7 linked regions of the Homo sapiens genome follow. The protein of the gene in region 4 interacts with the protein of the main gene of each other region in a pairwise test. Each region holds a gene or a part of one and is shown on either strand. Other genes may lie near its edges. The genes, in order: ANKRD24, SEPTIN7, PARVB, PCNT, SPTBN2, ST18 and SRGAP2.

The links.
Region 1: the proteins of PCNT (region 4) and ANKRD24 interact in a two-hybrid assay, tested with the Homo sapiens proteins (one large-scale study listed by BioGRID and IntAct).
Region 2: the proteins of PCNT (region 4) and SEPTIN7 interact in a two-hybrid assay, tested with the Homo sapiens proteins (one large-scale study listed by BioGRID and IntAct).
Region 3: the proteins of PCNT (region 4) and PARVB interact in a two-hybrid assay, tested with the Homo sapiens proteins (one large-scale study listed by BioGRID and IntAct).
Region 5: the proteins of PCNT (region 4) and SPTBN2 interact in a two-hybrid assay, tested with the Homo sapiens proteins (one large-scale study listed by BioGRID and IntAct).
Region 6: the proteins of PCNT (region 4) and ST18 interact in a two-hybrid assay, tested with the Homo sapiens proteins (one large-scale study listed by BioGRID and IntAct).
Region 7: the proteins of PCNT (region 4) and SRGAP2 interact in a two-hybrid assay, tested with the Homo sapiens proteins (one large-scale study listed by BioGRID and IntAct).

The regions. Positions count from the first base shown.
Region 1 is NC_000019.10:4,210,189-4,213,688, forward strand, and holds part of ANKRD24 (ankyrin repeat domain-containing protein 24), read left to right. Parts: intron 1-76; coding exon 77-184; intron 185-307; coding exon of another isoform or gene 308-502; intron 503-876; exon of another isoform or gene 877-1,062; coding exon of another isoform or gene 1,063-1,086; intron 1,087-2,286; coding exon 2,287-2,325; intron 2,326-2,411; coding exon 2,412-2,510; intron 2,511-3,500. UniProt on the Homo sapiens protein: Component of the stereocilia rootlet in hair cells of inner ear.
Region 2 is NC_000007.14:35,881,057-35,884,556, forward strand, and holds part of SEPTIN7 (septin-7), read left to right. Parts: intron 1-1,427; coding exon 1,428-1,520; intron 1,521-2,834; coding exon 2,835-2,931; intron 2,932-3,500.
Region 3 is NC_000022.11:44,023,050-44,027,101, forward strand, and holds the start of PARVB (beta-parvin), read left to right. Parts: upstream 1-1,252; 5' UTR 1,253-1,290; coding exon 1,291-1,402; intron 1,403-3,254; exon of another isoform or gene 3,255-3,327; intron 3,328-4,052. UniProt on the Homo sapiens protein: Adapter protein that plays a role in integrin signaling via ILK and in activation of the GTPases CDC42 and RAC1 by guanine exchange factors, such as ARHGEF6. Is involved in the reorganization of the actin cytoskeleton and formation of lamellipodia.
Region 4 is NC_000021.9:46,439,156-46,442,655, forward strand, and holds part of PCNT (pericentrin), read left to right. Parts: intron 1-927; coding exon 928-1,047; intron 1,048-1,699; coding exon 1,700-1,929; intron 1,930-3,341; coding exon 3,342-3,418; intron 3,419-3,500. UniProt on the Homo sapiens protein: Integral component of the filamentous matrix of the centrosome involved in the initial establishment of organized microtubule arrays in both mitosis and meiosis. Plays a role, together with DISC1, in the microtubule network formation.
Region 5 is NC_000011.10:66,719,217-66,722,716, reverse strand, and holds part of SPTBN2 (spectrin beta chain, non-erythrocytic 2), read left to right. Parts: exon of another isoform or gene 1-1,276; 5' UTR 1,277-1,367; intron 1,368-1,454; 5' UTR 1,455-1,476; coding exon 1,477-1,633; intron 1,634-3,500. UniProt on the Homo sapiens protein: Probably plays an important role in neuronal membrane skeleton.
Region 6 is NC_000008.11:52,116,257-52,119,756, reverse strand, and holds part of ST18 (suppression of tumorigenicity 18 protein), read left to right. Parts: intron 1-1,315; coding exon 1,316-1,419; intron 1,420-3,338; coding exon 3,339-3,482; intron 3,483-3,500. UniProt on the Homo sapiens protein: Repressor that binds to DNA sequences containing a bipartite element consisting of a direct repeat of the sequence 5'-AAAGTTT-3' separated by 2-9 nucleotides. Represses basal transcription activity from target promoters.
Region 7 is NC_000001.11:206,392,041-206,395,540, forward strand, and holds part of SRGAP2 (SLIT-ROBO Rho GTPase-activating protein 2), read left to right. Parts: intron 1-648; coding exon 649-864; intron 865-1,504; coding exon 1,505-1,633; intron 1,634-3,500. UniProt on the Homo sapiens protein: Postsynaptic RAC1 GTPase activating protein (GAP) that plays a key role in neuronal morphogenesis and migration mainly during development of the cerebral cortex. Regulates excitatory and inhibitory synapse maturation and density in cortical pyramidal neurons.

The sequences.
Region 1 (3,500 bases), on a different chromosome or scaffold from region 4:
GGGAGGGGCTCTGGCTGAGACCTGGGATGGGGCAACCTTAGGCCCCATCTAAAGGCCGTGGTGGGGAGGGGAACAGGATGATCGAGATGCCTATGAGGAGATCGTGAGGCTGCGGCAGGAGAGGGGCCGCCTCCTGCAGAAGATCCGGGGCCTGGAACAGCACAAGGAACGGAGGCAGCAGGAGGTTAGGAGGCCTCGGAGATTTGGGCGTGGGCCAGCCTGGGTGGGGTCAATGCAGGCATGAAGATCCCCCTACTTTTCTCCCACCTTCCCTCCTCCATCTCTCTCCCTCCCCACCCTGCTGCAGCCACCTGGGCCTCCTCGCTGTTCCTCCAACTCGCCAGGCGCAGTCCTGCCTCAGGGCCTTTGCACCACCAGTGTCCTCTGCCTGGAATGCTCTAGCGCAGTCCTGCCTCAGGGCCTTTGCACCACCTGTGTCCTCTGCCTGGAATGCTCTAGCCCCAGATGGCCCCACAGCTCTTTACCTCACCTACTTTATGCAGTAGGCTCCTCGCCAAAGACACTTCCCATGCCCACTTCCCATGCCCACTTCCCATGCCCACTTTCTTCAAAATTGTAACATCACCCCCCACCACCCCCCCGGCCAACTCGCTAGTTCACTTTATTTTTTTTTTATTTATTTTTGGTTTTGTTTTGTTTTTGAGACGGAGTCTCGCTCTTGTTGCCCAGGCTAGAATGCAATGGTACGATCTCGGCTTATTGCCACCTCCGCCTCCCGGGTTCAAGCGATTCTCCTGCCTCAGTCTCCCAAGCAGCTGGGATTACAGGCGCCCACCACCACATCCAGCTAGTTTTGTATTTTTAGTAGAGACGGGGTTTCAGCACATTGGCCAGGCTGGTCTCTAACTCCTGACCTCAGGTGATCCTCCCGCCGCGGCCTCCTAAAGTGCTGGGATTGCAGGTGTGAGCCACCGCACCCGGCCTCTTTATCTCCATTTGCATCACTTGCTGCTATTGGGCATGCATCTGTTTTATGTGTGTCCACCCATTTGACTGTGAGCCTGCGAGGGCAGGCATGGCTGATGGTGCCTGGGTCACAGTATGGGCGTCGTCAATATTGATTGGGTGAGTGAATATTCAAGTGAGTGTATGAATGAATGGCCAAAACCAGGTCTGCCCCATAAGAGGCACCCAGTAAAAACTTTCTGGCTGGGCACGGTGGCTCACACCTGTAATCCCAGCACTTTGGGAGGTTGAGGTGGGCAGATCACTTGAGGTCAGGAGTTCGAGACCAGCCTGGCCAACATAGTGAAACCCTGTCTCTACTAAAAATACAAAAAAAAAATTAGCTGGGCATGGTGGCAGGGGCCTGTAATTCCAGCTACTTGGGAGGCTGAGGCAGGAGAATTGCTTGAACCCGGGAGGCAGAGGTTGCAGTGAGCCAAGATCACACCACTGCACTCCAGCCTGGGTGACAGAGCAAGACTCCATCTCAACAACAACAACCACAACAACAACAAACAAAAACAATCTTGTTGAGTGAATGAGTGGATGGAACGGTGCCTGGCATACAGCAGGTGCTTAATAAGTACATAGTAATTGTCCAGAATGGTGCATACTGGCACACACAGCAGGCACTTAATAAATACTTAGAAATGAATGACTGGTCAGAATGGTGCATGCTGGCACACAGTAGGTGCTCAATAAATACTGAGTGACAGGTCAGAACAATAGCTGGCACAAAGTAGGCACCTAATAAATAGGAATGAGGCCGGGCGCGGTGGCTCATGCCTGTAATCCCAGCATTTTGGGAGGCTGAGACAGGCGGATCACGAGGTCAGCAGATCGAGACCATCCTGGCTAACACCGTGAAACCCCGTCTCTACTAAAAATACAAAAAATTAGCCGGGCCTGTTGGCGGGCGCCTGTAGTCCCAGCTACTTAGGAGGCTGAGGCAGGAGGATGGCGTGAGCCCAAGAGACGCAGCTTGCAGTGAGCCGAGATCACACCACTGCACTCCAGCCTGGGGGACAGAGTGAGATTCCATCTCAAAAAAAAAGATAAATAAATAAATAAATAGGAATGAATGAGGCTCAACATACAGCAGGTGCTCAATAAATATTTAGTAATGAGTGAGCAGGCAGAATGGTGCCTGGTACACAGCAGGCACTCAATAGTAATGAGTGAGCGGGCAGAATTCAGTAGGTGCTGAATAGTTGCACGTGGAATGCGTGAATGTGCATGGAATGGAGGCTATGAAGCAGGAGGTGGGGCAGGGAGGCCTCTTGCCCAGATCCAAACCCCTGTCCCTGTTTCTCCCGTCAGTCCCCGGAGGCCAGCTCCCTGCACATCCTGGAGAGACAGGTAGGTGGGAAGGTGGGGAGGAGCCGGTCCTCCTGCTGCCCAGCCTTTCCTCCCAGAGGCAGCTGAGCCTCCACTGCTGCTCCCAGGTGCAAGAGCTACAGCAGTTGCTGGTGGAGAGACAAGAGGAGAAGGAGAGCCTGGGACGGGAGGTGGAGAGTTTGCAGAGCCGGCTGTCCCTGCTGGAGGTAGGAGCAGTGATGAGTCAGGGCTGGGCTGGGGCTGGGTCGGGGAACTTCTCTCCTACAGCAGCGACAAGACAGTCACACCAGTGCATGCACAGCCTCACACACGTGCAAACACACGCACCAGACACATGCACCCACAAACCCACAGTCTTGGCTGGGTGCGAGGGCTTACGCCTGTCATCCCAGCACTTTGGGAGGCCGAGGCGGGCGGATCACGAGGTCAGGAGATCGAGACTGTCCTGGCCAACATGGTGAAACCCCGTCTCTACTACAAATACAAAAATTAGCTGAGTGTGGTGGTGCGCGCCTGTAGTCCCAGCTACTCTTAAGGCTGAGGCAGGAGAATCACTTGAACCCGGGAGGCGTAGTCTGCAGTGAGCTGAGGTCGCACCACTGCACTCCAGCCTGGGTGACAGAGCGAGACTCAGTCTCAAACAAACAAACAGTCCCACAGTCACATGCACCCATGCACATTTACAAATGTGCACAGACACAGAAAGGACCTTCCTTTCTTCCCCTTCTCCTTCCTTCCTTCCCTCCCTCCTTCCTTCCTTTCCTTCTTTCCTTTCCTTCCTTCCTTCCCTCCTTCCTTCCTTTCTTTCCTTCCTTCCCTCCCTCCCTCCTTCCCTTCCTTCCTTTCCTTCCTTCCTTCGTTTTCCTTCCCTTCTTTCTTCCTTTCCTTCTTCCTTCCCTTCCTTCTTTCTTCCTTTCCTTTCCTTTTCCTTCCTTTCTTCTCTCTTTCCTTCTATCCTTCCTTCTTTTTTTTTTTTTTTTTTGGACAGAGTCTCGCTCTGTCACCCAGGCTGGGATGCAATGGTGTGATCTCGGTTCACGGCAACCTCTGCCTCCCTGGTTCAAGCGATTCTCCTGCCTCAGCCTTCCAAGTAGCTGGGTCTACAGCTGCACGTCACCATGTCCAGCTAATTTTTGTATTTTTTGGGGAGTGGGGAGGATGGAGTTTCACTCTTGTTGCCCAGGCTGGAGTGCAGT
Region 2 (3,500 bases), on a different chromosome or scaffold from region 4:
CTTTGTTTTTCACCTTTTTCAATATGAATTTCAGAATACCTTGAAACCTGTTATAAAAAGCCTGTTAAAATTTGCTTTGAAGTTGTGCTAAATTCATACTAATTTTCAGAAAGTTTTAGTACATTGTTTTTACTGTATCTAGTATTTTTGTGTTTTACACTTACCCATTCCCATTTTTGTTTTGTAATGTGCTATTTCTAAGTTTCAAACACTATCATATAATACATTTCTTTTTGTTTATTATGTGTTTCGATTTGGATTTTTACTGATAAAGGTAAAAAAGATGAATATGAAGTGACCTCTTCTTTCAAATTGGTCACATCCTGGTGGTTGTACTCAGGTCATTTTAATATACAACCTCTGACTAAAACCATTGCTTTTAGAGCTAGCTACTATTACTCATTTTTCTCGTCATCATGTATTTGTCAATTCCTTGTTTATTCTTTTTTTTTTTTTAAATATAGGTACGTACCCTAATTGTAAAAGAAGTGTGGTCCTATTTTTTTTCAGTGACAATTTTACTTCTGTTTACTTCTGTCTACTATAGTAACCATGTAACACAATTTGTTCAGGGTCCTTTTATAGCTGCTGGGAACCTTTGCCAAGAAAGTTGCACCAAAATATAAGTATAGACAGGGAAGCTAGGTTTAGGTATATTAGCCATTGGTTTGTTATGGGTTCAAATAAGGATAGGTAGTTGAAAATTATTTGGATGTCTGTATTCTGTTTAGAATTGGAGTGATTTTGAACATGATAATTTAATTTGAACTAGGTCATTTCTGATGTTAATAATAAGTTGTCTTCTCTAGGTTTCTGCATTCTCCTTATTAATTCTTGAGCTTCTTAATTTCTAGGATGTGTTTTCTCCCTGTGTCCTTCCCTAATCTTACACCTGTTGCTCCTCAATTTGTGTGTATGCACATGTACATGTAAGGATTTTTCTGATGAATGTTCAGGGAGCAGTGCTGTACTTAGTTTTACCTTACTTTTGCCAGATTCTACTAAAAATTTTACGTGAGTTTAGCCCTGTTTATTCAACTAAATAAGATACTTGGGAATTTATATCTAAAGGAAGAATCTCAGTCATTGTAAATAAATGACCTAAAGTCATTATTGTGGAAATCAATCAGAGAAATCCCTTTCTGGAGTTTTACATCCTTTTTGGAACTCTTTTGGTATGACAGCTATATGACTTTAACACTTCGGAAGTAATTGGATTTGGTGTTTATATATCAACTTCATAGTTAAAAAAAAAAAAAAGACTAGCGTAGTACTTTAATTTTAGATTACAACTTTGCATCATTAAAAAACAGTAAAGGATCTGGAACCAAGGACCCATATAGGAATCGAAGAGGCATGTAATGAACATAAGACTAATATACTAATTATGTATGGTGCTCTTTTGCTGACTACTTCTTCCATTTTAGATAATGAAAGAAATCCAAGAACATAAAATTAAAATATACGAATTTCCAGAAACAGATGATGAAGAAGAAAATAAACTTGTTAAAAAGATAAAGGTAGGTTCATCCCTGTACACACGCTAAAGTAATCTGAGGCCTTAAAAACATACTACAGCGTCCACAGGAAAGATCAAAAGTATCAGTGTTTTAAGTAGTTGGCTTACAAAATACCTAGGGAGATTTAATGTTGAATTCAACTTTATAGTTAACTTTGAAGATTAGCTAGTATATATAATAAGGAATTGTATAAACTACTGAGGTGAATAACACAATTCTTATTTCAAAGTGTTTTTAATTAACTGGCTTTCATATTATGTAATTTTTTTCTCTTAAAAAACAAGTGATGAGAAAGGAGAGAATTCGTTCTGTTATGTTTTAATTGCCAGACAAAAATGTATTTATTTTGTCTCTATAAAAGCCAACCAAAATTACAGCTAGATAGGAGGAGTAAGTTCTAGCGTTCTGTAGCATTGTAGGGTGGCTGTAGTTAACAGTAATTTAGTCTATATTTTCAGATAGCTAGAAGAGGATTATGAATGTTCCCAATACAGAAAAATAAGTTTGAATTGATAAATATGCTAATTACCCTAATTCAATCATTACATATTTGTATAAAGTTATCAGAATACCATACTGTACCCCACAAATGTGTACAATTATGTTTCAATTAAAAACAATAAAAACCAACCAAAAATTCACATCAACATATTTTCTGTATTTTATCATGGTTTTCTATGTACTTTGGCCCTAAAAATGGTATACTGAATAATGGCATTATGTAGGCAAATATCTTGGAATAATGAAATTCTTATACATTGCCTGTGAAGAATTTCTGCAGTTGTAAATAGCTGCTTAGGTATTTCTGGGAGCCACAGAATTGTGAAGGGCTGAACATGGATGAACACAAATCCAGTCACCAGGATTTGAATTTCCAAAGTTAGAGCTTAACAAATATACTATTACCTGGTTTAGGTACTGTTATAGTTGGTTTGTGATCAAGTAGGCAAGCTAGTCATTAGCCCCCCGCTTTTTTTCCCCCAAATGCCAATATAGTTTTTACCTTTTATCCCCCCCCAGGTATGGGACAACTTTCTGTAGTGATTTTTAGTAAATAATTTGACCAGTATATGCTTGAATATTCTTAACATTAAAGAGAAAATTTAATTTTATTTATTGTTTACCTTGGTGGCAATACCATGTGATGGCAGTTTACTAAATATTTGTTAAATGGCCTATAAAAACTAATGCAGAAACTATCGAAAGTAAATTTTTTTTTTTTTTGGCTAACCTGTTGAGTAATGTAACTTTTTTTATTTTTGAATTTGTGAGGACTACAGAGATGTATTTGAACAAGAATACTTTGTTTTATAGGACCGTTTACCTCTTGCTGTGGTAGGTAGTAATACTATCATTGAAGTTAATGGCAAAAGGGTCAGAGGAAGGCAGTATCCTTGGGGTGTTGCTGAAGGTAAGATTTTCTTCAGTGAATGACTTTCTAAAATATCTCAAAACTGATTAAAAATTTGTATTTATAGTAAGTAGTACAGTATGCACACTGTATTGATATAGTCTAGATTTTCAAGGATAATACTGATTTCAGGTTCTTGTAGTCTCAATTTTCTCTTTAAGTACATTGGTATTTTTCAAACCTGTATCCTACCAAGTCAGGCAAGTGTGTGTTAAGTCCTAAAGTTGTAGTATAGGTTGAACATTCTTAAAGAGAAAATTCAAAATGTGAATTGCTCCAAAATAAAACGTTTTGAGCACTGACATGCTGCTCAAAGGAAGCGCTCACTGGAGCATTCTGAATTTTGGATTTTTGGATTAAGGATGCTCGACCAGTAAGTATAGCACAGATATTCCAAAATTCCAAAAAAATTCAAAACACTTCTGGTCCCAAGCATTTCAAATAAGAGATACTCAACTTGCCCCACCCTGGCTGGCATCCTGCCTCATCATTAAGTCTATTTCTGTTTTCATATTTGAAAACATAACTAAAATTGAGGGGTTCTTTACCTGGGGCCCAAAGTTTGCTCC
Region 3 (4,052 bases), on a different chromosome or scaffold from region 4:
TCCTCCTACTTCTTCAAGGCTGGGGCTTCTGGCTGTGAGCATCTCAGAAATCTGTTTGCTTTTCTCCTAAGTCACCGTCCGCCTGCCTGTGCCTTCTCTGTCTCCAGCACCTGCTGAGCAGCCATCAGCCAGAGGCAACATCTGTGACATCACAGCTCAAAGCCCTGCCTGGGTATCTAGGCTGGGCATGGTGGCTCACACCTATAATCCCAGCACTTTGGGAGGCCGAGGCAGGCGGATCACCTGAGGTCAGGGGTTCGAGACCAGCCTGGCCAACATGGCAAAACCGCATCTCTACTAAAAATACAAAAATTACCCGGTCGTGGTGGCGTGCACCTGTAATCCCAGCTACTCAGGAGGCTGAGACAGGAGAATCGCTTTAACTCAGGAGGTGGAGGTTGCAGTGAGCCGAGATTGTGCCACTGCACTCCAGCCTGGGCAACAAAGCAAGACTACGTCTAAAAAAATAAAATAAAATAAAACAAAACAAAATAAAATAAAATAAAATAAAATAAAATAAAATAAAATAAAATAAAATAAAATAAAATAAAATAAAAATAGCCCTGTCTGGCAGTCCTCGGGATGAAGCCGTTTCCTCTGCTTCCAACACATGCGAGGCCTGTCTCCCCTCCTCTCCCCTCCCTGGCACCCCACACTGTCCCCAGGGCCTGCTCTTCTGCTCACCTCATGGTACCGGCCTGCAAGCCATTTCCTGGGGCCTCCCCGTCGCCTCTTCCAGAAACAACTCCTGGAACTCCCCTTGGAGGTCAGGCCAATGACCTGTGCCCCGCATTGCCCTCCATCCTCTAAGCTTCCCGTGGGTAGGGACAATTCCCAGTTCTGAAGGGCTCCCCCTGCCCCGGGCCTGGCTCTTGGCAGAAGCTTAACAACAGACCGGCCACGTTCGTGTGACCTGATTCTCTCCGGCTTTCAGGACGTCCTGAGGCTGCACCCACGTGGCAATGGTGTCTGTCGCGCTGTCGCCTGGATCCGGCACCACTAGCGGAGCCGAGCAGAGCCCAGGGCTCCAACGCGTAGGGAAAAGGCTGCGCCGCTCCCGGGGTGGCCCCACGCCCCTTCTCTGAGCTTGAGCGGCGGCGCGGGACGGGGACGGCTCTGGCCGGGACCAGCAGGCCTCGGGCATCCGGGACGCCGGGGCCGCGCTCCAGGCCAGGGGCGGGGGCGGGACCGGGGCGGGGGCCGGCGGCGGGGCCGCGCCCTCGGCCTCTCCCCGGGGCGACCGGGCGGCTCCACACGCGCTGCGCCCGCCGCCGGCCCCACGCGCGGCCCATGTCCTCCGCGCCGCGCTCGCCCACCCCGCGGCCCCGCAGGATGAAGAAGGACGAGTCGTTCCTGGGCAAGCTGGGCGGCACCCTGGCCAGGAAGCGGAGGGCGCGCGAGGGTGAGTGCGCGCCCGCGCCCGCCGACCCCCGGGGACCTGCCCGGCGGTGCCCGCCCTCGGCCCTAGAGCCCCACGAGGCCGCCCCCGCCCTCCCCCACGCACCCCGCCCGGCCCACGCGGCTGCGCGACCTTCGGGACAGGCCAGGCCTTTGACCCAGGACCCGTAAACAACGGCCGGGACCTGGCGCGTGGGGCCGCGGTGGCCTCCGGAGTCTGCCAAACGCGCGTGCGGGCGCCTGCGCGGCGGGGACCTCGGGCCACCGTGCGGGGCCCGCGCCTGCTCTGCCTGCCGGGTGTTCAGCTCTTCCCTGGGCCAGCGGCATAGCCAGCCGCGCGGGGTGACCGTTCATTCCATGAGCAGTGACGCTCACGTGTGCAGGGCACTCTGGGCAGACACGGCCTGGGGGACCCACTACTGGGTGTTGCGCGGGCGCCCTGCAGGGTGCGGGGCTCAGGGCGTGCAGGGCTGAGGCCTGGGAGGCCTGCGAGCAAGAATTGCAGAGATCCCATTAAAAATTTTTTTTTTTAAATTTTTTACTGCGTGTGCTCACGAAACACTACCAACCTCGTACGTTTTAAAGATTGTTAGAGTTGCAAGGGATAGTCTGGTGTCTTTAAGTGTACCGCTTGCCCAGGGCCTCCTGGGAGATACATTCTGGAATTTTCTGCTTGGGTGGGGAGGTTCTGCCCCGGGACCATGCCCTATAGTGAGATTTCGGATTGGTGAGAGGTGAGGGGAGCTGCTGTGGAAAGGCAGATGGAGAAAGGCCGGCCTCAGGTGGGTCCCCGGGAAGGAGCCCTCCCATAGCGGGTATGCAGTACGGTTTCCTTAAACCACCTGGGCCTGACATATCCCCTGGGAACTCTTCCTGTGCCTCCAGGGATTAGTGTACCCCGGGATGCAGGTCCCCCATTCATTTCTTCCCTGGGACTCTTGTATTCCTAGGGATGTGTGTGCCCCGGGAAGACATATGACAGATTTGCCTCTAGGCATGTGTGTGCCCCCATGCACCTGCTCCCCAGGATTTTTGTACAGTGCAGGGAACGCTTGGTTCCCCAGACATTTTCTCCCAGGGATGCCTGTGCCCCCAGGGATGCGTGTCTTCCCACCCGTGATCCTGTTCCAAGAGGGCAGGGTCTTGTCCCCTTCAGTAGGTCTCCTGGCGGATAGGTCACTCTTCTCTCAAGCCTTACACTGGAGGACCCACTGTAGCTTGTATTGGTCGGTGTTGGTCACGTCTCCTAAATGACATGATTAGTGGCTGTCACCCTTCTATCATCCCCACTGTTCTTCCATGCAGTCATCAGCACCCTCACCAGAAATCATTTCGGTTCCTCTTTATGGCTTGCAACGATTATAGACGCAAGTGACGCTCCCCTCCCAATTCAGCCCACAGCCTGTGGAGCGCCCGCCATGGGCCAGGTGCTGCTTAGACCCCAGGAAGAAAAGAGCGGGGGCGGGGTGCTTGCTTTCGTGGAACGGGGAATGAATACATAGACAACTGGCGCTGTGATGACGTGCCCCGGAGCACATAGAACAGGGCGATCAGAGCCAGGGGAGGCCTCTGAGGAGGGGACACTTGAGTGGAGGCCAGAAGGAACCAGAGGAAAAAGTCTTTCATAGAATGGCAAGGAACCGGAATGTTCTGGGCTATTGCAGCTTTTTCTAGGTGCCGTTTACGCTCTCGGAATAGGAAGAACACACACCCAAAGTAATGGACTGGGCCCAAATTCCAAAGTACGCAGTGCTTCTCCTCCTTGCCTGTATGAATTGATGTGTGTCTAGAAAATTCAGGCCCAGCCTGGTTTAATTCAAATGCACCAAGAATTCCGGTAGCAGGAAGCATCCTGTGCTGAATAGAACGGGCGTGGAGGCAGGAGGAGGAGCAGGACGCCGGGCACTGCTGATGCTGCTTTCGCTGGGGGTGAGCTGGGCGCCCTGCCTCGGTTCTCAGGGTTGGGGTGCCTGGCAAACAGAGGGCCACAAACCCTCCTTGGATCTAGGCACAGGAATTGAGGGACAGGCTGGATTGGGAAGGGTTTAGCGGCTTCTGTGTGGTCTCCTGGGAAGTGGAAGAGTCAGGAAGACTGGATAATGAGGGCTTGAATAATTGAGAGTCGCTGGTATTTCCGCAAGCCCATTTGCCTTGGCAACATGCGCTTCTGCCACTCCAGGGTGGAGCAGCCCCTGGCCCTGACTTTGGGCCGTCAGAGCTATGCTCGGTTGCCTACCAGGGAGTGACAGGGCGCTTGGGAGGTTTCCACGACCCTGCCTGCTGCACCGTCGGCTTCATTTCCTCCTTTGTTAGAAAGTTGAGGGTGGATTTGGGAGAACGGATGTGGCTCCGACATGTTCCTGAGTTGAGGACTCTAAGGGAGGAGGGGGAAGCTGGGGGAAGGGGCGGGCTCATCGGTGAGGTTCCAGATTCAGGCAGGGGTGTGACAAGGCACGGAGGGACTTTTGGGAGGGATGGTTGGGATGAGTGACGTGGCCTGTTCCAGAGGAGAGGGGTTAGGAAATGTGGGGCCCTGGGGTTTGGAGGAAGCAGTGCAGGAAGTGTCTGAGAATGAGCTTCACGGTGGGCGTGATTAAGGCTGATGTGCTACGGGAGGCGTGTCACGTGGTGGCCTGGGTCAGAAAAGGGAACTG
Region 4 (3,500 bases):
GTTCACACACACACACATCCCTGTAACCTTCATAAGTAACCACCATTCACAGAGCACACAGCGATGGCCCCCCCAAAAAGAGCAGCAGGCATCTCCGCCTGCCACAGGCCCTGGCTCTCTCCCAGAAAGGTGTGTCAGTGGAACCAGCCCGTCTGGGACCTCCTAAACTGGCTTTTTTCACTTTTTGGGTTTTTTTTCTGAGACAGGGCCTTGCTGCATCTCCCAGGCTGGAGTGCAGTGGAGCAGTCACAGCTCACTTCAGCCTTGACCTCCCAGGTTCAGGGATCCTCCTGCCTCAGCCTCCTGACCTGCAGTGGTGTCAGCAGCAACCTGTGCACGTCCTCCCGTACACTCTTAAGTCATCTCTAAGATCACTTGCAGCACCTCATTCAGTGTAAATGCCACGTAAATAGTTGTCATCCTGTATTGTTTAGGGTGTAGGGGCAAGAAAAGAAGCACACGTTTGGTACAGACACATCGTTTTTTCTGAATATTTTTCACCCACAGTTGGTTGAATCCATGGATGTGGAACCCACAGCTGTCGAGAGTTGACTGTGCTTGTAGTTACCAGTGGTTGGCATTTCTAGGACCGGAGAATATGAGAGTGTTTAAGGCTTAAAGCTTTGAATTTGGGGTGATTTTACAAAGAATTGGTTTTCTGTTTCTGTTAAAATGTACCTTTTTTGCAATCATACTTCAGCAAGTGGCATGTCGTAATTACTCCATGTTAATTCTTTGGCTGATCACAGCACGGCGTAACCTAGGCCCTGCTGAGGGGGTGCTGAAGTTGAGGAGGGGCCAGGTGTGGTGTGGTCAGCCTGGCCTCCCCGCACATGGCCTTCTCCCTCACCTGCCCCCGGCTGCGTCTCTAAGATGCTCTTGTTGACGAGCAGCTCTGTAGACAGCGCTGGCTGTGCTTCCTTACAGAGGTCGGAAAGGTCTGCTTGGAAGCCAGACGAAACGGCTCCACAGAGTTCCCTGAGGCGCCCAGACCCCGGCCGGCTTCCACCAGCTGCCAGCGAGGAAGCACACACCAGCAATGTCAAGGTAGGAACGGTGCCACGAGTATAGAACTTTGGTGCTTTTTTAAGTCCTGGGTTTGCAAATTGCAGGCAAAGCATTTTTGTGACCACAAGGTTCTCGTCTGCCGGGTGTAGCAGTCACATCACTAAAGGAAAGGACGTTCACAGAATAAACTTCGGCTTGAATTTTGTTTTAATTGTGCACAAATACTGAGTTTCTGTGCTTGTTAAGCGTGGAACGTGGAAGGCTTTGACAAAGTCAGCAAATGGCGGCCTCTGCAGCCTGAGGGAGGCCTGGCCCAGGGGCTTGCCGGGATTCGGCCCAAGATCTGCTGCAGTCTCCTGATGGCACACGGTCCCCACCCCGTGACGTCCATCTCATGCCCAGTTTGGACCTTACCTAAGGGGTGAAATGCAAGAAGCTTCATAGGGGCTCATTTGATGATGCTGTGGAGAGGAGCTTGTGGTCCTAGATCTTGTCTGACAAACACAAATTGATCTTCCAACAGCAAGGTTGTTTCTGGCCACAGATACTGTTGGAAGGCCGATGGCTCTGTGATGATTTGATGGGAAAAAACAATCTGACTCTTTGGAAAGAGCAATGGTGTTAATGTGCTTTTGTCAGCAAGACAGTCTTTGTTTCCTATGATAAAATTTTACTGCTTTTTTTCTTTTAGATGGAAAAATTGTACCTGCATTACTTGAGAGCAGAGAGCTTTAGAAAAGCTCTGATTTATCAAAAGAAGTATCTTTTGCTGTTGATTGGTGGATTCCAGGATTCTGAACAAGAAACACTCTCCATGATTGCCCATTTGGGGGTATTTCCTTCCAAAGCAGAACGGAAAATCACATCTCGTCCTTTCACCAGGTTCCGCACGGCCGTCAGGGTGGTCATTGCAATATTAAGGTAAATGCCATGACGTTCAGTCAGTGCGTTCCGCGTCTGTCTCCGTGAGTGGGCAGCACACTGCATGGTTTTTTGGTCATTTTATTCCTTGAAACTCCATAATATGTTCTTTTTAAAGATGAATGGCATTTGAGGCCTTAGAGAAAATACAGATGATGAACTTGTCTTCAAGAAGTCATGTGTATGAATCTCTCACCTTCTAAAACTAAAGATTTAAGGGCACCTTTGTATTACAGAGGAACATCTTGACTTTTAATGGGTTTCGTGCCACAAAGAACGTGCTGAATTTCTAAAACTGTTTTTCCCCCTAAACACTGTGCGGCTGTGCCTGCTCCCTGATGCCACAGAGGTGTTTCCCAAGGCCACGCGCGGGCCTGTCTGGAGTAGCAGATGCAGCAGAGAGCAGCTAGGAATCCCGCTCCTTTCAGAGACCAGGTGCCGAGCCAGTTCAGTCATCGCGGCTGCAGGCTGGGCCAAAGTGGGGTGCAGGCGAGGCCTCCTGGGTTGCTGTACTCTCAGCTTCTCTGGTCCTGGGGCACTTTGTCTCCTCGTCTCTGAGCTCCCCTGACCGTAGGCCTCCACCGTCCATCCTTCCACCCACCCATCTGTCCATCCTGTGTTCATGGGGAGAACACCCTGCAGGAGGAAGCATTTTAGGCACTAGATAGGGGAGGTAAGCAGACCCAGATCCTACCTCCTGTCGAGGAGGGGAGATCTTTTGAAGGCAGTGGTGTCCCAGAAAGGAGCAGTCTCTGTGTCCCTGTGAGGGCACTGCCTAGGGTAGCTGCCACCAAGGGGCCTTGACAGGTCTTATGGAGGAATCGGCAGTGTCTGCTATGCCTCAAAGGAGGGAAGCCACAGGCATGATGCTTGTTCCGAAGGCCATCCTAGCAGGGCGTCTGGGGCCCTGCACACTGACCTGCATGCCCTCGTCACCTGCACTCTGCATGCTCACCATCTGACGGACTCCTGCGAGGGCTGGGGTCTCCGTGTTCTGAGCCTGTCCAGTGGCATCTGTGACAGGATGAAGATGGGAGGGTCCTGCACACCAGGCGGGAGCGGCATGTGTTTCCTAGTCACTGGTGTGGCCGGCTGACTTTGAACTGGAGTCGTCCTGAGCTGGGCCATGGTGGGTGTCTAGGGGACCATATGGTCCACGGTGGGGCCGCAGTGAGGCTTTGTCAGGTGGTTGGGCATGGGAAGGTCGCCGCCGCCGGCAGCCCTGCGAGCACTTTGGATGTGTGCACCCGGCATGCCAGGCCCGAGTCAACAGACTGGCCGACCTTGGCGTCCTGGTCCCCATGGGCAGCGAGGCCCCCATTCTGCTTGTTTGGTCACAGTGGGGTTTTCATTGCTCTTTCCCTTCCTGTCTTGCCGTACTTTTAAGTGTGTCTTGTCTCTTTTTTTTGTAGATTACGTTTTTTGGTTAAGAAATGGCAAGAAGTAGATCGGAAAGGAGCTCTGGCACAAGGCAAAGCCCCTCGCCCAGGTGGGACTCCAGCTGCTGTTGACCGCTGGACTCACAAACCTTTCTTTCTACTCTTGTTTTTCATTCACTTTGGGTCATTTTT
Region 5 (3,500 bases), on a different chromosome or scaffold from region 4:
TTACCATGTTGGCCAGGCTGGTCTCAAACTCCTGACCTCAGGTGAGCCACCCGCCTTGGCCTCCTAAAAGTGCTGGGATTACAGGTGTGAGCCAATGCCCCCAGCCAACTTAATGTCTTTTTTTTTTTTTTTTTTTTTTTTGAGACAGAGTCTCATTCTGCCGCCCAGGCTGGAGTGCAATGGCGAGATCTCGGCTCACTGCAAGCTCCGCCTCCTGGGTTCACGCCATTCTCCTGCCTCAGCCTCCCGAGTAGCTGGGACTACAGGCACCCACCACCACACCCAGCTAATTTTTTGTATTTTTTAGTAGAGACGGGGTTTCACCGTGTTAGCCAGGGATGGTCTCGATCTCCTGACCTTGTGATCCGCCCGCCTTGGCCTCCCAAAGTGCTGGGATTACAGGCGTGAGACACCGCGCCCAGCCAACTTAATATCTTTTGTGCAGCTTCCTCATCTATGAAATGGGGACAACAGTGGGCCCTCACCCCACAGGGAGTTATGGTGACGTGATGCATGTCAATGGCAGGGATATGTCACAGCCGACATTTATTGAGTACTTACTAACATTCTCTGTGGCAAACCAAAGGAAACAAAGCGGAGAGAAGCATACTGTGTCCTCCTTTGAACTCCTGGGCACTTGCTAAACAGTGTGTCAGTCTTCCTGGCGTATCATAACTTTTTCTTAACTCAAGAGCAGAATCTAGGTCTTTTTTTTTTTCTACTAGTCTCGCTCTAAGGTGCGCCCAGGTTCAAGCAATAATCCTGCTTCAGCCTCCTGAGTAGCTGGGATTACAGGCGCCTGCCACTACGCCCAGCTAATTTTTTGTATTTTTAGTAGAGATAGGGTTTCACCATGTTGGTCAGGCTGGTCTTGAACTTCTGACCTCAGGTGATCCACCCACCTCGGCCTCCCAAAGTGCTGTGATTACAGGCGTGAGCCACCGCGCCCAACAAATCTGGGTCTTTTTCTCTCAACTTGCCTACAGGGTATAGTAGGCCATCTTGGGTTGATCATGGGCTCAAAACAGTTTGTAGAAGGAAAGAATGCCACTTTCTAGTCATTATTGCCTGTGGGGCCCCATATGTGCTGCCTGCATTACCCTGGGCTGCACACTGCTGTCTGAAGCACTGAAGCCCATCACCCCTTTCTTCACCCCGCAAACCCGTCCCTCTCTGGCCCGAAGTCGTTGGAGCCTTTCCTGACCACCGCATTGCTCTGAGCTGCTGCTGCCTTCCTGCTTCACTTTCTGTGCTTCTGATGTATTCCCGTCCCCAGGCTTCCCAGGTGGCTTCCCCTCTTCCCCTGGGGGCTGATTTCCACTGAGCAGCCAACCGCAGCCTCTGGCCACAAGGAGAGCGGAGCACAGGTAGGGCAAGAAGACAGAAGGCCCCGGTGGTGAGTGGAGGGCTTGGTGGTCCCTGGACACCCCTCACTGGCCACATTCTCCTTGCAGGAGCAGGAAGCCGCCTACCACCATGAGCAGCACGCTGTCACCCACAGACTTTGACAGCTTGGAAATCCAGGGCCAGTACAGTGACATCAACAACCGCTGGGACCTTCCTGACTCGGACTGGGACAATGACAGCAGCTCGGCCCGCCTCTTTGAGAGGTCTCGCATTAAGGCTCTGGCAGGTGAGGTCAGAGGAGGGTCGAGGTGGGGGGATGCTGGAGGAGGCTTTGTCAGCTCGTCATGAAGAGCCCTTTAACTTTATGGGAAGACTGACTTTTCTTTCTAAGTGGGAGACCCAGAGCACTCTATCAATTCCCTGGTCCCCACATCCAGCCTCAAGAATAGGCTCCAGGCCATTCAGAACTTTCCCCAGCTCTTCCCCCCAAGCATAGAGACGCTTCACTGGCCCCTGGACTGGCTGAGCTGACTAAAACAGCTTCCCTCTCTGGCCTCAGCCCCCGGGTCATGTCCCTTCATCCTTCGGCACTCTCGCTCTTGCCACTCCTTTCTCCGCCTACCTCTCCCTTACCTGTCATGCCCTTGTTGTGTCTTCTTTGATTTCCACTGTCATTTCCCACACCTGTTCCCAGTCTATTATTCCCCTCTGCTCCCTCTCCACCTGTTCCTTCCACCTGCCACCTGTTACTCCCATTATCTCATCTGCCTGTTCCCTGAAGCAGGTTCCCTCCACCCGCTGCTGCTGGTTTCTGCAGCCGCCCATTCTCCCTGGTGTGCTCTCTGCCTGCCTTGGCTCCTACTCTTCCCTGCAGCCCAGGGCCTGGGCTCTCCGCTCTGAGCGGAAACTCGTCCAACGGCCTCCCTGTCTTCCGGGGGAGGAGTTGTCATGGCAACAAGAGTGCGGCTGCCACCTGACACCACCAGTGGCTGGCATGGGGCTGACTCACCCACACACCCCAAGGCCACCTACCCCGTCTGGCTTCCTCCTCCATCCCACTCTTGTCATTGCCATTGACCTGCTGGCTGCCCAGCCCAGCCCAACCCAACCCAGTCTGAGGGGTCCCAGCTACTCTCACCGAGAGGTGGTGCTCCGAGTGGGGGTGGGGGTTGGCCACTAGAAGAAGAGAGACTCCAAGGGGGAGGTTCCCAAACCTGGCCACATGTTTTACAGGATCACCCAGGGATGTTTTTTACAAATACAGGTTTCCAAGCCCCTCCCTAGACACAATAAGTTAGAATCTTGGTCCAGAACTCAGGATTTTTCAAAAGCTCCCCAAGTGATTCTTTTGAGCCAGCTCAGCACCAGTCTGAGGACCCCCTTGTGGCAGCCATAGCTTCCCAGGACCCCTTCTCATTTTCTCCTGGGCCTCTCTGTCCTTCTGGTTGGGTCTTCAGGCCGGCTGTGAAACACTCCTACCAGTGTGTCTATACATCAGAGAAGACAGAAGGTGTGGGTTATGGAGAATGTCATGTTTGGGGAAAATGTTCCTGGCACTCTGGTTTTGGATTCATGTAGCCTCTAGAACTGTCATGATGTCTATGTGTGTACAACATGTGCCACCCACCATGTTTGCACACATGACAAATGCCATCCAGGACTGTCACCATGCCTGTGTACATAGGACACATGCCTCCCAGGACTCTCACCATGCCTGTGTACATAGGACACATGCCACCCAGGACTGTCACCATGTCTGGCTGCACATAACTTGGGCCACCCAGCACTGTCACCATGTCTGTGCACACATCTGTGTGACCTCGTGCTCTCATTGGGTGTTTATCTCCACCACTGAACTGGGCTCTCCTGAAGAGGCAGCTCTGCATGGGATTTGCCTAGCACTGTGTCTCCAGCCAGTAGGTGTCAAATAAACACTGAATGAATGAAGATGAGGAAGGGCAAGTGTAGGCTGCACATGACAAACGCTGAAGCCCAGAGGAAGGGCGCCTGGTATATGTGCCCAGCAGCGGGGCGTCTGGGGGCAGGGATGGCCTGGTGGAGGATGGCCCTGGTGGGCCAGAGGGCAGGGAAGGGGCTGGCACTGGAGGTGGTGATAAGCAAGTGGAAAGGATGGTAACAGCCCTCGTTTCACA
Region 6 (3,500 bases), on a different chromosome or scaffold from region 4:
ACTTTTTTTCTCTTCGCACTAAATTACTAAGAATCTCCCGTGTTGTTTTTGGTGGGCATGTGGTTTCCTTTCAAGTTGTGCTTTTGGCGAGCAACACTGCTGTGTACACCTTATGCATGCTTCCTGTGTGCAACCATTTGTTTTGGGTGTGTACCTAAGGAAGAAATTGTAGGGTCATAGAGAATGTGAGCATCCACCTTCAGGAGGTAATGGATTATTTCCCAAAGTAGTCACCCTAGGAAAGTATAAGAGCCCAGATCTCTTTCAAACCAATTGTCAAGCCAAGTACCCTTTATCCTTCTCTCATGAAATTGCTCCTATGAAGTCTCTACGTGGAAGTTCACATGTCCTTCTTCATTGTCACCCTGGTTCAGATTCATTCTTCTAGGAGGTAAATTACCTCCAATCCTGCTTCCCGCACCCTTAATATTAACTACCTTCCCCAGGTCCTTGAAACCTTTCAAATGTAGTCATACTCCTTCTACAAAGTAATCATGGGAAATAACCCCCATTCACTGAGAGCCTGTGGCATGTTTAGCGCTCTACATTTTATTGCATTCATTCTCACAGTGTAGATAACATGCCTATTTTACAGAAGAGGATACTGAAGCACAAAGAAGATAAGTAAGTTGCCCAAGTTGCAGAACAGGAGTCAAACTCCCAAGCTGATGTCCTTCCCCCTAAATTACATTTTCCTCATCCATGTCCACGTGGAAGACTATGCCAATGTGTTTCTGGACACTAATTCACCTGCCAGCAGCCCCGCAGCTCTGCCTCCCATCATGGGTCCTAAGGTCTAATTCAACTAAACAGATATTTAATTACTCAGCATAAAACTGTCCTTGGAGCATTTTGAATAAGAGAATGCAAGGGCTTTGAGGTTTAATCCCAGCTCTGCCTCTTAATTTGAACTTGGGCAGGTTATTTAACTTCTGTCAGTGATTCTTGGGGTCTCATTTAACCTCTCTGGGCTCGGTGTCTTCATATGTGAGGAGGGTATAATGGAGCGTGTCCCACTGTAGGGTGTGGTAAGATGTAATTGAAGGCATATTTACAAATGGGTCTGGCAGCACCCCTGGGACATAACTGAGCTACATGCAAGGGTGGCACTTTTCTACTCCCTCTTTTCTTTCTTACCAATAAATTAAATCTGTAACTTCTCTTATCCACTTTTTCAGAATCCTAGATATGCATTGTTTTGGTAAAAACACTAAATGAAAGTCTCATTTTCAAGTAGCAAATCACAAATTAAACATATAATGACTCATTTGTTAACAGTTTTCAGTTTGAACTAAGGTAGTCTTACTCTTTACAGGAATAGAGAGTGATGAAGAAATTAGGCATTTGGATGAAGAAATAAAGGAACTGAATGAATCCAACCTTAAAATTGAAGCAGATATGATGAAACTTCAGACCCAGGTAAAAAAAAGAAGTAATTCATGATCCTTAATGTAATCATAATCTTTGGTGGAAACAAAACATTGAAATTTTAAAACTTGTGTGAAAATATATGGTAACTTAGAGTCAATATGCTGAGTGTTTCTAGATTCCATAATTATTGTAAAATTCTGAATAGGTGGATCATCCCAGGTTACCATTTATTCAGTAGCTCTGGGCAAGCTTTCTCATGTTTTTGCCCTGGTGGCATCGAAGTTTTTATAAGCAAACAAGGCAGATCATCCTATAACCCAAGAGTCTCTGGTGCATTAGAAAAAAAATGTGATGGAAAGGTAAGAATCCTTGGTTTTATTCAAAATTCAAGTAAAATATAGCAACTTTTTGTTTAATGTTTTTGGAACACCTCTGAATGTGTAAGTATTTATTAGAAACAGATCTTACTGAATATTTTCTTGAGCAAATTCTTTACCTAAAAGCCCAAGCAATTTCTCAATTCTGCATTCTTCTTTGTGATGTCTGCCTCATCTCCTGGAAATCAACAGTTCAGTCCAAGATTTTTAAAACATGAATCATAACTCTCTTGCAACAAGTTAGCAGCAAAAGAATGAGACAGAGCATACGACTGTCTTTCTCCCCTTCCCTTCTCTCCTCTTCTGAAATGCAGGATTTTTATGCCACCATGGTTACTGGATCTCTTGGAAGTCCTCACACAACAGCTTAAGACAAAGGGTTTTAATCCATCTGAAATTTAGGTTTCCTTACCCAGAGTGACCATTGTTGCCATCATCAATTTAATGGCCATCTGGTCCACAGATTGATACTTTTGTCTAGAAATCATGGGAATTCCTCTAGAAAACCATTAGCAAAGAACACAAAGCCCTCTGCCCTCCTGAGACTTATAGTCTAGAAGGAGGAAGCAGACAATAAACAAAAAAGTCATAAATGATCAATGGTGTTGTATGCTAGAATGGCAGGGGGCTGGGCGAGTGGCTGTATTTCAATACTAAATAGGACCACCAGCCCCCAGGAAGAAGAAAGCCATCCACAAAGACTTGAGGAATGAGGGAGTTAGCCAAACAAGTATGGAGAAAGAGTGTTTCAGACAGAAGAAACCCTGCAAGCGCAAAAGTGCTCATCATGAGAAGGCCTGGGGATTTCAGAAATAGCAAAGGGAAGTGTGGCCGCAGGTGAGTGAGCTGGGTGGGGCAGGTCACAGGAGAACAGTCTCAGAGACAACAAGGCAGCTCACACGGGGCATCTTAGGCCATTTTAAAGACCTTGGTTTTTATTCTGAATGTGTGCAGAACTGTAGCACAGTTTTGAGCTAACGAGTAACATAATCCCATCTGATTGACATGCTGACTTGCATTTTAACAGGCTCATCTTGGTGGCTGTGTTGAGGAAAGGCCAAAAAGAGATTAGATGGGGTAATGGCAAACACAAGGCCACCCACGAGAAGGTAGCACAGTCACACTGGTGGCTGGGCCCAGGGGGCAGCAGAGTGGAGGGGACAGTGGTCCCATCCTGGATATTTTGAAGGAGGAGCCAGTGGAGGTGAGGTATGAAAGAAAGAGCCATGGGGGGTCTGCACTACAGTTGAGTTGCTGCTGACTGGAAAAGGGAGACAGCGGATGGAGCAAGTTTGGGGAAAATAGCAAAGTTTACTTTAAACATGTTGAGTTTGAGATATCCATCATACAGCCATGTGGAGAAGTTCTACAATTCATGAGGAAGTCTGGGCTGAAGATGAAAATTTGGGGATTTGATTCCAGCACTTCAAACAATCCAGTGGGGCTGCAGCTTCATGCTGAGAAGTTACACGCATGCATCTCTGCATCTCTTAGTATTCAGATGCACTTGGTGCATTTTCCTTCAGGGAGAAACCTTTTACACTCCTTCCAAACTCCACTACTCACATTCCCAAGTTATTTCTGTTGTAGATCACATCTATGGAGAGCAACTTAAAGACGATAGAGGAGGAGAACAAACTCATAGAACAGAACAATGAAAGTCTGCTGAAAGAGCTGGCAGGTCTAAGCCAAGCTCTCATTTCAAGCCTTGCTGACATCCAGCTTCCACAGATGGTAAGTTCAAGGCCAGAA
Region 7 (3,500 bases), on a different chromosome or scaffold from region 4:
TGAGAAAATGTGTTGTGTGGTACTTGGCATAAAGCCAGGAATATACTAAGTGCTCAGTAAATGATAACTGGCATTGCAGTTGCTGTGAGAGGGTGTTTGATCTGGATAAAGCAGAACAGACAGATCCCCAGAATGCCAGGCCGGTAAAAGGAGCTTTTGGAAGCTTTTCCTCTTCCCTATTTTATATCTGAAAGGTAACAGAAAGCATAGGCTACTCCATAGGCTGCACTGCCCTCTTCGGGGTTCCTGACCAGCCCAGAAAGGCTTTGCCCTTGGGGCCTGAGAGTGGTGGTGTTGTTTCCCATCTACTCAGTATTATGAGGTGACTAAGTGATAGAAATCACCTGGCCAATATTAAAGAGAAATGATTACAAATGATAATGAATAGAAATAAATAATACATGATGGATAGACATTAAGTTATTTCAATAAGAGGAAATGTTGGCTCAGTTCACATATTGCTTTCCTGTGCTTTGGAGTGGTCTTTAATCTGTGTTTGCTGAACCAAACACTTCTGGATTTTTCCCTTAGGGGTGTGAGGATATTGCTTCATGGGGGAGAGCTCCAGCTGAGTCTGTTAGTCTGTAAAGCAGAGAAATGACCCCCTTGGCTTGACCTCTGGGGGTGGGGGTGGGCGATGTCTTGCAGGTGATGAAGACATATCACATGTACAATGCCGACAGCATCAGTGCTCAGAGCAAACTAAAGGAGGCGGAGAAGCAGGAGGAGAAGCAAATTGGTAAATCGGTAAAGCAGGAGGACCGGCAGACCCCACGCTCCCCTGACTCCACGGCCAACGTTCGCATTGAGGAGAAACATGTCCGGAGGAGCTCAGTGAAGAAGATTGAGAAGATGAAGGAGAAGGTATGTAGGCTCCCACAGCTGTAGATGCTGGGAAGCAACATTCGGTAAGGCATGGCTGATAGGAATTTCCCAGTAGTCACTGGGAAGAGCAGACGAGGAAGCTCTGGGTTCTTTTAGTGCCTAATGACTGAAAATGAGGCCTTGCTCTGTGCCCTGGCAGGAATACTAGGTATTGGAAGAACTGGGCACGTGGGATCCAAGTTTCTAGCCTCTAGCAGAAAACCAAGAAACAGCAGTCACCTTTCCCAATCCATTTTCCAAATAGAGCTCAATATCCTATTGCTTTGGAGGGGTTGGGGGTGACTGTAAACCCAGGATTTGGTTTCAGGTATCAGGTGTTCAGGGGCAAGAGTAGTGGTACCTCCTTCAGAGTGGCATTGCAAGAATGAAGAATGATATTTGAAGATAGAATCAAAGTGGGGCACGCATCTTAAGTAGGGAGCCTCATTAACCTTTCCTGAATTGATCTACATTGTGCCCTTGAATCTCATTAAACAGAATTAGAACCCAATTTAAGGCAGATGCGCATAGGGAGTAGCAACACAATTGTAGTTCTTGAATACACTGTACTTTTATCTTTTAGAGAACAAGCCCCCCTTAAAAAAAAAAAGGTAAAAGTGAACTTCTGTTTCCTTTTCAGCGTCAAGCCAAGTACACGGAGAATAAGCTGAAGGCCATCAAAGCCCGGAATGAGTACTTGCTGGCTTTGGAGGCAACCAATGCATCTGTCTTCAAGTACTACATCCATGACCTATCTGACCTTATTGATGTAAGTGCTTAAAGCCAAGGGCCTGAGGGCACCTCTTTTCTGGTTTCAGAATACTCGTCAGACATTCCCCGATACTATTGTTCAGGAATCTGGTGCATTTTGAGAACAATTAGGAAGATAGCAGCCATGATCCATCAGGGTGCTTGCCAAGCACCAAGTGAAACACTTCACACTTATTCAATCCTAACTGGAATTCTGGGAGGAAGGCATTATTATCTATATTTTTACAGATTAACAGAGAGTTTAGATGACTTAGTCAGAGTCAGTTAACAAATGACAGAGGCAAAATTTGCACCTAGGCCTGATGACTCAACCCAGGCTCATAACCACTACACTCGTCTATCTGCCAGGAAATACTTTCTTCCTTTTTTTTTTTTTTTTTTTTTTTTTTGAGATAGAGTCTTGCTCTGTCCCCCAGGCTGGAGTGCAGTGGTGCAATCTTGGCTCACTGCAACCTCCATCTCCCAGGTTCAAGCAATTGTCCTACCTCAGCCTCCCCAGTAACTGGGACTACAGGCATGCATCACCATGCCCAGCTAATTTTTGTATTTTTAGTAGAGATGGGGTTTCACCATGTTAGTGAAGCTGATCTGGAACTCCTCACCTCAGGTGACCTGACCTCAGGTGATCCACCTGCCTCGACTTCCCAAAGTGCTAGGATTACAGGTGTGGGCCCTGCACCCGACCTAGGAAATACTTTATTACATCAGCTTCTCTTGCACAGAAGTGAGTGGCAAGAACTTAACTAAAGAGTTACAATGCCATCCCTTATATTTGTATAGCATTTAAGGTTTCTCAGTGTTAACTCATTTGACTCTCACATCACCATTATGGGTAAGCATTGCTGTCTCCAGTTGCTAGATAAGGAAGCTCAAGGTCCAGAGGACTACGAGACTCACTTGTCCAAGGTTATGCTGCAAATTAGGGTCCTGTCAGGAAGGTATCCAGCTCCCCCTGACATCTGGCCCATTTTTTAAAATATGTGATGCAAAGGGGATTGAGGAAAGCGGCTAATAGGCACATGTGTTTTGCAAGGGGCAAGCGCAGGGATAAGCTTTTTGTTTTTTGCCTGTGAGTTATTCTTGGCCTTGTTTTTCCTGCTGCTTCCCCTTACAGTTGGGTCTTACAAGCCCTCTCACCTACAGACTCCAATCTGGCCCAGGTCCTGAGCCACACCTAAGTGAAGCTATGTAATTACACCCTTTCTCACCTCTCCTTCCAGTCATCAAAGTGAGGCATCTGGAGCCAGCCAATTTAGCATCCCAGTCTCTGGGGCTTCAAGTGTATCTCATCTCGGAGGCCTGCCATTTGTTTCAGGGTCTTGTTGGCAGCAGTTGGGCTTTGCAAAACTCTGGCCCGACCACTCTTGCTTTCCTGCCTTGGTTTCTCCACAAGCAAACCTGCCACACCTCACAACATCATATGGGATTTGGGTCCGAGTCTTGCTGTTATATCACCACCTGGGTCATCTAGGCTTGTCACTGAATTGTTCTGAAACCCAGCTTTGTTTCTCACCCACTCCCAAGCTCCTCTAGCTAACTGAAGAACTGGACTAATTCCCTGGTATTAAAATCTGGCCTCACGTAAGAGTTGCTTGGGGAACTTCTCTAAAATACAGATTCCTGTCTCCCTTTAGCCGAGGATTTTTGATTCAGTAGATTTCAGCCACTTAATGCCCTAGGTGTCATTGTCTCACTGGGTTAGTAGAGCCTTGCTCCCTGTTCTGGTACCTCTTTGTTCTCTCTGCTTATTGATGACAATCTGAACACTGTCCTTCAATGGAGGTCAGAGCCCTAAACAAGATCCTTTCTCCTCCTCAGGGGAAGAGCTCCTCATTGTTGGGAGAGAGGCCTGTTCTCAGCATAAG